Regions from separate parts of the Homo sapiens genome. Here region 2 is linked to region 1. The links come from fine-mapping of genetic effects on gene expression. A gene starts in region 1. The other region holds a variant in brackets. All regions are shown on one strand. Distances are from middle to middle.

Evidence for each region. PIP is the estimated chance that this variant, and not a neighbour inherited with it, causes the effect.
Region 2: its variant is fine-mapped to the expression of KCNQ5 in whole blood (TOPMed, PIP above 0.99).

What each region holds. Positions count from the first base shown.
Region 1 is chr6:72,619,339-72,624,719 of GRCh38, reverse strand. KCNQ5 (potassium voltage-gated channel subfamily Q member 5) reads right to left here and starts at 2,656. Exons shown (of 14, transcript NM_019842.4): 1 at 2,133-2,656. The coding sequence starts at 2,530. KCNQ5-DT (KCNQ5 divergent transcript) reads left to right here and starts at 2,041. Exons shown (of 3, transcript NR_186827.1): 1 at 2,041-2,188. RefSeq lists silencers at 1,322-1,371, 2,402-2,661 and enhancers at 1,020-1,971, 4,082-4,271.
Region 2 is chr6:72,581,979-72,587,359 of GRCh38, reverse strand. No RefSeq gene overlaps it. Among named protein-coding and RNA genes, the nearest start is that of KCNQ5, 37 kb to the left of the region's middle. The variant T/G (reference allele first, on the strand shown) is at 1,997.

The DNA of each region.
Region 1 (5,381 bases):
AAATGTATAATCAAAACTTCACATTTGCTACATCTATTAAGTACACAATTTATTTCCTGTCTACTACTAAAGATACTGCTAGACTGATAAAGCCTGGTAGACAGAGAAGTATCCAACCTTGAACCTTTGGAAAAATCATTTATTAATGTTTTAAAATTCTGTAAGCCCATACAAACCTGTTAACACCAACACATGGAAAAGAAAATGTTGTGTTGCAAGTTCTCATTCATGTTCAAGAACAAGTTAGGAGATGCAAAGTATGTGCACCAACCAAGGCTTTCTTTAACTCTCTCTGAATATACAATGCATAATATAAAAAAAAGAAAGGCTAGAAATGTTTTGAGCATACTGTTGTAAAGAAAAAATCATAACCTATACAGTATATATATTTGCTACCAAATTGAGCATTATAATTGCTAAATTATTTTAGTATATTCTGACAGGTCAAAATAATTTACCAGGCTTATTAAGTAATATGTTTAATTACATATCAGGTCAGAGGAGATTAACGAGAAAAGTGTCAGTTGCATTTCTCTATCATTATCCTAACCACATTTAAATAAATGTGAATTTTACATAAAAGTTATACTTTTTGATGTAATGATGATGCAACACAACCGTTCTCCTTGTGTGCATTGTAAAACGGAAAGTTGGCTGGAATATTCTGCCTAATGCTACATGTTCACGTCAATCTGGGACTGTAAAATTTTCCAGACACCAGAGCCCCACAGATTGTAGACTCCACCAATTTCCTGACTCCTATGTGGTTGAATTCCAGGTTCACCTAGTTACAAAACCAGCCCTTCTTCCATGTTATTTCAAAACACGTTTCTGGTGTTGATGCTAATTCTGCATCCCAGGAGAGAGCTATGTATGGATGACATAACTTATTTCTAAAAGAAACCTAGTCCGTGTGCTCAAAACTTATTTTACTAGGAAACAAGGAATGTATCAGCGAGTATCTGCAACTTTCTCTACTGGTCTTCTAAGGTTGATGTCTTTATATTTCATCTTAACAAAAAAGAAGCAGAAATAATAATACTAAAAAAAGAGGAAGCAAAAGGAGAAGAGGAAGAAAAAAAGAATTAGACACGAGGTAACATTATAAAAACAACCTTAAAATGCCCAGATAAACGTAACTCTAATAGGAGACTGAATGAATGGACTTTGTGGGAAAAACAGTAGTAAACTTTAAAGCCACTGAAAGGTTTTAAATGCCTAAGGGAAAAATAAACATTTGCTTCCAATCATTTTCTCATTAAGCATTCTCTGCTAGATGGAGAAGGCTTACTACACACACACACACACACACACACACACACACACACTCTTTGACTCCGCGCCACAAACGGGGACTTAACCCACTGCCCGATCTCTGTCAGAGGCGACCCATTTGCGCTTCTGCTATCGCACCTCCGCCCGCGTTCCTGCGCCCCAGGTTCCCCGCTGCCTCCCCGCCCCCTGCAGCGCGGGAGCGTTGCTTCGCCTGGCCTGCTGGCCTCCTCTAGACCTTGGCCACCTTCTCCGTGGCAGGAAGGGCTACATGCACTGACAGATTTTCCGTTGGTGGTGGCTGGGTGGTGGCGAGGCGTGTTTCCGGGCGCGCTTAAAACCTAGCAGCTCTCTCCAAGTAGCAGCTTCCCCTACTCCGCCCCTAGGACTGAGGACCTAGCCCTCGATGCCCCCTCACTTCTCCCCGTCCTACCCCGCCATCACCTCCTAACCTCTCCAGTATACTCTCAAGCCTCACACGGGCGCCTGTCCTCCCTTTGCATTCCCTAGCTCCCGGGCGCCCCGTTCGGTTGAAGTTTACGTATCTTGGGACCTAATTGCTCCCAATTATCCGCGCAGCCTAAGTCCCGCGTCTGCCTGGCTCTCGCCCCGGGAGCCTGAAGCTACCGGGCAGTTCATTGGGTGTCCTCGGGGAAAAGGTTCAAGCTGTAGAGATGAGAGAAGTGGGGCTGGGGGAGGGGAGAGGCTCCAGAAGGAAGACCACGAACACGTGCGAAGAAATAAAAGCCACCACGTGTGCACGCGCGCGGGGGCCCAAGGGCGCGAGCGCGGAGCACGCCCCAGGGGGCCAGGGACAGTGGTCCCCTGCAGCGGGCATAGCAGGGGGCGCGGGTACTCACACGAAAGCGTGGTAGATGAACGCCCAGCCGCGGGGTCTCTCCAGCACGTTGTACAGGTAGTTCTGCACCCGCCGGTACTTGACGTTGCGCCGGCAGCTCTGGCTACTCGTGTAAGAGAGCGGCTTCCCCAGCAGGCTCATCCGGGCCCCCTGCTTGCCCCGGCGGCTCTCCCTCAGGCCACCGCCGCCGCCACCGAGCGTGGCCGCGCGGGTGCCCAGCAGTAGCAGGCCGTCGCCCCTGGCGGCTGCCGAGTTCAGCAGCACCCTGCCCCGGCCGGACTCCACATCCTTCATGCCGCTGCCCAAGCGCCCCCCGCCCGCCGCCGCCGCCGCTGCGCCGCTCTTCACCCAGAGCCCGGCGGCGCCGCCCTCCTCTCCTCCCGCGTGGTGGCGGGGCATGGCATCACCACGGGCACCGCGAGGGGGCCGCCAGCGCCTGCGGCGGGGGCAGCGGCCTCATGTGCGCCGGCGGGTTTCAAGGAGGAAGCCGGCGGCCGACGGGGCGCCCGCCAGCCAGAGACCTCTGAGCCGGGGGCGGGGAAGCAGGCAGCCAGCAAACCGCCCGGGCTTCGGGGCGGGAAAGGAGGGGCTGCAGAGGAGGCCGAGGAGTCCCAATTTCTAACAGCCTTTAGCTTCGAATTCTAAATCCGGACCTGTTTGGGGCGTCACTTTGAGAGGGTTTCTCTTGCTCCCTCATTCCCGCGACTACCACTCCCTCCTTCCCAAACTGCCCCCGGGGATAGAGTGGGGGAGTGCGGGGCGCTCCGAGGCGCGCTCCCACGCGCGCACACCCAGCCCCAGGCTTCCCCTTCCCTCTCTCCACTCCCCACGCCCTGCAGCGAAACGGCCCCAGAAGCCCCTCTCCGAGGCGCGAGTTCGGTTTGGTTCTGGCAGGGGCTTTGCAGCTGTCCGGAAGGTGAAGTCAGCCTTGTGTCCTGAGGAGAAACTGGAGATGCAGGTCGCTGTGCCCTCCCGCTGCTACGTCGCTGCGCCGGATCCTGCCATCCTTCCGCAAGGGGTGAGAGCGGGAACAGCCCTGCCCTGCCTTCCAGGTATTATCTAGCCTGGAGGCTGGAGCGCAAGGTAACGCTCCGGGAAGTGGCACTCGGGTCCCCGCACACGGGCGAGTCCTCAGCAGTTCAGTGGACAGACCCGCAGGACGCGGCTGCCAAGTCCGCGAGGCAAGGACCAGGCATCTTCCCGCGCCTCACTCCAGCCTGCGGACTGTGACTTTCCATCCCAGTATCAGACAAGCTCGCGAGTAACTGAACATCCTTTCCAGTCCATGGGTGGGGTGTGGAAAGGGCGTAAAACTCCAAAGTGGCTCCTCCGCGGTGAGCGAGCTGCCCCGGGGCTCTGCCTGACTGCAGCGCGAAGCCTGGGAGAACAAACCCAGTTCCCTCCGTCAAGAAATTTCCATTTAAGTCCGAGAAAGTCATATGATTGAGAAGTTCAGCAGCGGCGGCGAGGACCCAGTGTCTGGGAAAGAACACCTGGAGGATGGGGTGTCCAGGACGCCGGCTTTTCGGGGTTCCGACCCCACCCACCTTATGTTGTAACATACAAGCTTAGAGACCTGTTGCAAGGAACAACTGACTGGGTCTTCCACCACCCCTGGCACCCGGGTGGCCCAAAGCCTATGCGCCCTTGGCGGAGAGAGAGGCCACGGTGCCACTGGCCGCAGCCTCTGGCCTTCAGAAACAGTGTATTACAAAGAAAAGGCAGTTTAAATCTCACATTCAGCATAGGGAAAACTGAAGGGTGCCAGGCTCGGGGACTTCTTCCAACAGAGTGGCTCTTCCCCAAATATGAAAGAAAATCATCAAATTAAATTGAAGGCAAAACTAAGCTTCCACCACAAAGACATAGCAGATAGTTGCAAGGTGGATTCCTTCGGGCCTTTTCCTTTCCTAAGGCTAAAACAATGCTAAGACAAAAGTCTTCTTGCAGCTGTCTCCGCCCCTCCGAGATAAATACTTTCCCAATTCTCCCCCACCCTGTACACACACCCACGCCCGCGGCAGCTGATTTCTGTCTTCTGCAATAGCTCGATTTAAATGCTTTGCTTTTACTCTTTATTATCACTATTATTTGTGTGAAGCCCTCTCGCCTGCTCCTGGTCACCAGCAGGAGCCTGCTTCCCTCCCTCCTTCCCCCCAAGCCTCTGGGCAGCAGAAGCTAGCTGGGAGCTCTGTGCAGCTGGCGGCGACGCCATGTGACTGTGAGCCGAGCACCATCACCCAGAGTCACTCTCTAGCTTTCCCCTAATACACTTCACACCCACGCACTGTGGAGGTGCGAGAGAGGTTGCTCCGTGCGGTGCTATTCGAGGCAGATGCAGAGAGCGCCCTGGAGTAAGCTCTCCAATCCTAGAGCTGCGCGGGACCCTGACTGAAGGCGGAGGGGGCGGGAGGGGGTGCTGTTGCTATATTTAGACTCCCTATGGAGTTTCTGTGCAGGGACTTTCAGGGTGAAAGATCTAGAGACTTAAAATGACTCGTGTGCCCGCTTTAAACGTCAAAATCTTGGCCTTTCTGCAAGCAGTAAAATGAAAACCACTTCCTCTTAACTTAGCTGTTTTCCTTGTTGCAGACTGCTACTTTCGCTGGGTAGGTAAAGTCACTTCCATCTCTCTGGCGCGGCTGGGCCCCGCGTGCAGGCAAGAAGTCTCAGGAAGGCAGGACACAGGGACACGTTTCCCTGGAAGACAGCCAGCTGTTTAATTTCTAAGTGATGCTTTTCTGGGGATGCAGCATTAGTTCTAGTGAAACTGTATTATTGATTAAGCAAATGCCATTTAAGCTTAATTAAAAAATAAAAAAGACCCGGTTACTGGTAGCCGTTTTGAGCTGCTGAGAAGGACCTTTCACTTATGTCTTCTAGAGTAACCGCCATTTGGATACACAGCCCAGAAAAAGAGGGCCTGCTCAAGTTTTCGCGGGTAGTGTGAGAGTTACTAGGAATCCAACAACCTGGCTTCCTAGTTCACTGTTCCTTCCACCAATCAATCTGCATCTCCAGCAGAGAATGGATAAAATAGCAAACAGTTCTGGGGTTTTGTATCAATCTCTGACTGCAACCATTGGGAAAGACTGGCTTAGCTGAAGTTCTAACCTTCCTACCTTTCAATGCCCAGAAAGAAAAAGCCAAGTGAGTCTGTGCCAACCTCTCCTACAAGAGCCTCTGTTTGCACCTTGCTTTATTTGCTACCTGCTAACTTCCCTCAAAAGACGGGAATTAACTTTGGAGA
Region 2 (5,381 bases), 37 kb after region 1:
TGTTGGCACCACTGCACCCAGTCTCTGCATTATTTCTTTCTTTCTTTTATTTATTTATTTATTTATTTGTTTATTTTTTGAGACAGAGTCTCGCTCTGTTGCCAGGCTAGAGTGCAGTGGCGCGATCTCAGCTCACTGCAACCTCCATCTCCCAGGTTCAAGTGATTCTGCTGCCTCAGCCTCCTAAGTAGCCGGACTACAGACGTGTGCCACCATGCCCAGCTAATTTTTGTATTTTTAGTAGAGACGGGGTTTCACCATGTTGGCCAAGATGGTCTTGATTTCTTGACCTTGTGATAATGTCTGCCTTGGCCTCCCAAAGTGCTGGGATTACAGGCATGAGCCACTGCGCCTGGCCTGTATTATTTCTTATAACTACATTTGAATCAATAATTCTCTCAATAAAATTTGAATTAAAAAATATACAAACATGTAGATGCACAATAGCAAAAATGCAAAATGCCTAAGCAAAGAAAACATGTTAAATACAACAGAAAAATAAAGATGGACTGCCTCCAAAAGAACAGCAGTTTGATAACTTCATAATGCCAACTAAGGATGCTAGGAGTCAGTAGAATACTAGCTTCGAAGTTTTAAGATAGGTAGCCAGTGAAGTTATTATCCAAAGTGAAGGTAAAATAAAGGCATCTTCAGATACACAGAAAAATAAGAGTGTTCACCACCTTCAAAACCGCACTAAAATGTAACCCTAAAGGATTTACGTAATAAGAATAAAATGACCCTACATGGAAGATGTGAGATGCATGAAGGAATAAAAAGCAAAATGATACACATATTACATATTAGTTTGTAAAATATGACAAGTTAGCATATATCCTTACCAGATATCAAGACTTAGTAACATTAACACAATATAGAATAACTAAGGCTGCCCAGTGGGACAGCAGAGGGCACCTAGAAACAGTCATGCATTTGTGAGCATTGAATTAAGCAGTGTAGAGCAGTGGAAAAGGACTTTTTTTTTTTTTCTTTTTTGAGACAGATTCTCAATCTGTCACCCAGGCTGGAGTGCAGTAGTGTGATCTCGGCTCACTGCAACCTCTGCCTCCTGGGTTCAAGAGCTTCTCCTGCCTTAGCCTCCCGAGTAGCTGGGACTACAGGCATGCGCCACCACACCCAGCTAATTTTTGTATTTTTAGTAGAGATGGGGTTTCACCATGTTGGCCGGGATGGTCTCAATCTCTTGACCTCGTGATCCACCCGCCTTGGCCTCCCAAAGTGCTGGGATGACAGGCGTGAACCACTGTGCACTGCCGCAAACCTCATTGGGAAATATATTCATGATATTTGGGAAAAAAAATATTTCTGAAATAAAACATAAAAAGCACTAACCACAAAGGAAAAGATCAATAAACATGCTTATGTTAGAAGTAAGAATTTTGGGCCAGGTGTGGTGGCTCACTGTAATCTCAGTGCTTTGGGAGGCTGAGGCAGGAGAATCACTTGAAACCAGGAGTTTGAGAACAGGCTGGACAACATAGCGAGATCCTGACTCTACAAAAAAATCTTTTTAAAAAAGTAAGTAAGAATTTTGTTCATCCAATGGTGCTATAAAATTACTAAAAGACAAGCCAGAGTAGAAGACATTTGCTAACAAAGACTCATATTCATAACATGCAATGAATGCCTACAAATCAATAAAAAGAGAAAATTTAACAGAAAAAAATGGGCAAAATAACATGAATAGGCATTTGCCCAAAAAGGTGTCAGAAAGGCCAATAAACCTTTAAAAATGTTTTTAACTTTTTTACAGTTAAGGAAATATTACTTATAGTCTTAATGAGATAACAGTACTACCCCCCACTGCCTACCACCAGATTAGCAAAATTTAAATTAACAATACACGATACTGAGAAAAACAACTCAATTTTGAAATAGAATATTTTTATAGATACTTCAACAAATATAGCTAAATGGCAAATAAATATATGAAAACGTGTTCGGCATCACTGCATTAGCACAATATAGATTAAGA[T/G]TATAACAAAATAGAACTACACATCTATTTGAATGAATCAAATTGAAATCATTGACCATACCAAATGTTGGTAAGGTTATGGAAGAACTAGACCTCTTATACGCTGCCAGTAGTAATGTAATTTTTTTTTCTTTAGACTCCCTTAAATGTGATTTGAGTCTGGAATATATTTGTTTCCTAGTTTCACTAAAAATGTAGATTTCAGGTTTTGTTTTGTTCTTGTCGCTTTTCTGTATTTTCCCATAGGAAAAGGGGAAAATGGTGACTTTCATGGCCATGTTCATGCTGGAAGCATTCTTTATATTTTTAGGCACATTAATTCATTATTTTGAAAAGTTGATTAGAGGTGCCTTTTTAATACTAAACTTTATGAGATTATATTGGGTTGGGTAGTGCTTTATAACATAACAAAACAGAAAATATTTTCATACACTGTACCACTTCTTTTGCCATGAAAATTAATCTGATCTAGTTTAGTCAACAAAATAGAGTGAATATTACAATCAGAAAATTGAATTGAAAAGGAAATAAAAACAGTTATGCTGTCCTAAAGTTATAATCACTATAATCAACAGATGAAAAAATATGTTATGGTCGCACCCAGGGAAGTTTAAATTTTAGGCATCAAAGCACGAATCCAAGAAAGTCTTGGGAATGCCTCGCCACTTTTCTGCAGATAGATATTAGACAGATTATACTTGATAAAGCACTAAAAAAGGCTCTCTGAGAAAAAATTGTTTCTTCATACCTAGCACTGGTTGGTGTCAAAGCTTTTGATCAACTGTAATCAGTTGGCTTTTAGAAACAATGACTGATATTTTCTTTAAAGAGTTCTGTCAATCTAAGTATTTTTGTAATATATTTGTTATTAGCTTGCAGCACTTTTAATCATGTTTTTTCCTTGCAGTATTTTACTATAATGCCTCTAGTTTCTTTATCATTTTGCAACTATGATCTGTTTTATACATAATTAAACACCTTTTGCATTACCACATAGTCTGCTTCATTTCCAAAATTGAAGAAATGGCTTGTGTAGTTGTTAGGAAGTGATGATTTTAAAACACTACAAGGAATAAGATTCTTTAATATATTAATTATCTGCCAGATGAGAATGGTCTGTAGACAGGGTAAAAGAAAGGCATAATTCTCTGGAATGCAAAGAAAAACTAGCTCAAGAGATTGTTACAGAATAAGAGTTACCAGCAGACAGTTTAAGAGATAAAGACTGGGGCAGTCCTCTTTGGGCATTATACTTACATATTTTAGGTAATAAATCAGACTATTAAGGATTAAACTATATAATTATTGCCACAAAGCATGTCAACAAGCTTATTATAGCAAATGAGAAAATCTCGTTGAAATTACCAAGCTTCTTGCAAGTGAAGCCCCTTGCAAGTGATCCAAAGAACCGTACACCAGGTCAGGTGAGAATTGGAACAGCATCTGCTGAAAAATGGAGTAGCCACATTCTTCCTTGAATCTTAAGTATTAGAGTAAGGGGACAGATTAGAACCAGAATAGACACATGAGCTTGGTCATAACTGACAGCCATCCTAACACACACCAGGTCTTAGAATGATAAATGCTTTATCAGGAAAAGAAAAACTAACTAAGGAAGTAATAAAAGGGATATAGTTCTATCATCAGTATCAGTCTATGGAAGAGTTACAGTCCATGTGTCCAAATGGTGTTTGCTGGTTAAGGAGTCATAGAGTTGCATACTTGGATACTAGTTTCCTTATTCTTCAAAATAAGGTAATCACAAGCAGTCTTTTCTCTCCATTTAAATAGTACTTAGCTATCACATAAAAAATCTTATCCTCAATGATCAAGTTGGCTTCATCCCTGGGATGCAAAGCTGGTTCAACATATTCAAATGAATAAACGTAATCCAACACATAAACAGAATCAGTGACAAAAACCACATGATTATCTCAATAGATGCAGAAAAGGCCTTTGATAAAATTCAACACCGCTTCATGCTAAAAACTCTCAATAAACTAGGTATTGATGGAACGTATCTCAAAATAATAAGAGCTATTTATGACAAACCCACAGCCAATATCATACTGAATGGGCAAAAGCTGGAAGCATTCCCTTTGAAAACCGGCACAGGACAGGGATGCCCTCTCTCACCACTCCTATTTAATACAGTATTGGATGTTCTGACCAGGGAAATCAGGCAAGAGAAAAGAAATAAAGGGTATTCAAATAGGAAAAGAGGAAGTCAAATTGTCTCTGTTTGCAGATGACATGGTTGTATATTTAGAAAACCCCATCATCTCAGCACAAAACTCCTTAAGCAGATAAGCAACTTCAGCAAAATCTCAGGATACAAAATCAATGTGCAAAAAGCACAGGCATTCCTATACACCAATAACAGACAAATGGAGAGCCAAATCATGAGTGAAATCCCATTCACAATTGCTACAAAGAGAATAAAATACCTAGGAATACAACTTACAAGGGATGTGAAGGACCTCTTCAAGCAGAACTACAAACCACTGCCCAAGGAAATAAGAGAAGACACAAACAAATGGAAAAACATTCCATGCTCATGGATAGGAAGAATCAATATCGTGAAAATGGCCATACTGCCCAAAGTAATTTATAGATTCAATGCTATCCCCATCAAGCTACCATTGATGTTCTTCACAGAATTAGAAAAAACTACTTTAAATTTCATGTGGAACCAAAAAAGAGCCCATATAGCTAAGACAGTCCTAAGTGAAAAGAGCAAATCTGGAGGCCTCATGCTACCTGACTTCAAATTATATTACAAGGCTACAGTAACCAAAACAGCATGGTACTGGTACTAAAACAGATACATAGACCAGAACAGAGGCCTCAGAAATAACACCACATGTATACAACCATCTGAACTTTGACAAACCTGACAAAAACAAGAAATGGGGAAAGGATTCCCTATTTAATAAATGGTGTTGGGAAAACTGGCTAGCCATATGCAGAAAACTGAAACTGGATCCCCTCCTTATATCTTACACAAAAATTAACTCAAGATGGATTAAAGACTTAAATGTGAAACCTAAAACCATAAAAATCCTAGAAGAAAACCTAGGCAATACCATTCAAGACATAGGCATGGGCAAAGACTTCATGACTAAAACACCAAAAGCAATGGCAACAAAAGGCAAAATTGACAAATGGGATCCAATTAAACTAGAGAGCTCCTGCACAGCAAAAGAAACTATCATCAGAGTGAACAGGCAAGCTACAGAATGGGAGAAAATGTTTGCAATCTATCCATCTGACAAAGGGCTATATCCAGAGTCTATAAATAACTTAAACAAATTTACAAGGAAAAAACAAACCCATAAAAAAGTGGACGGAGGATATAAACAGACACTTCTCAAAAGAAGACATT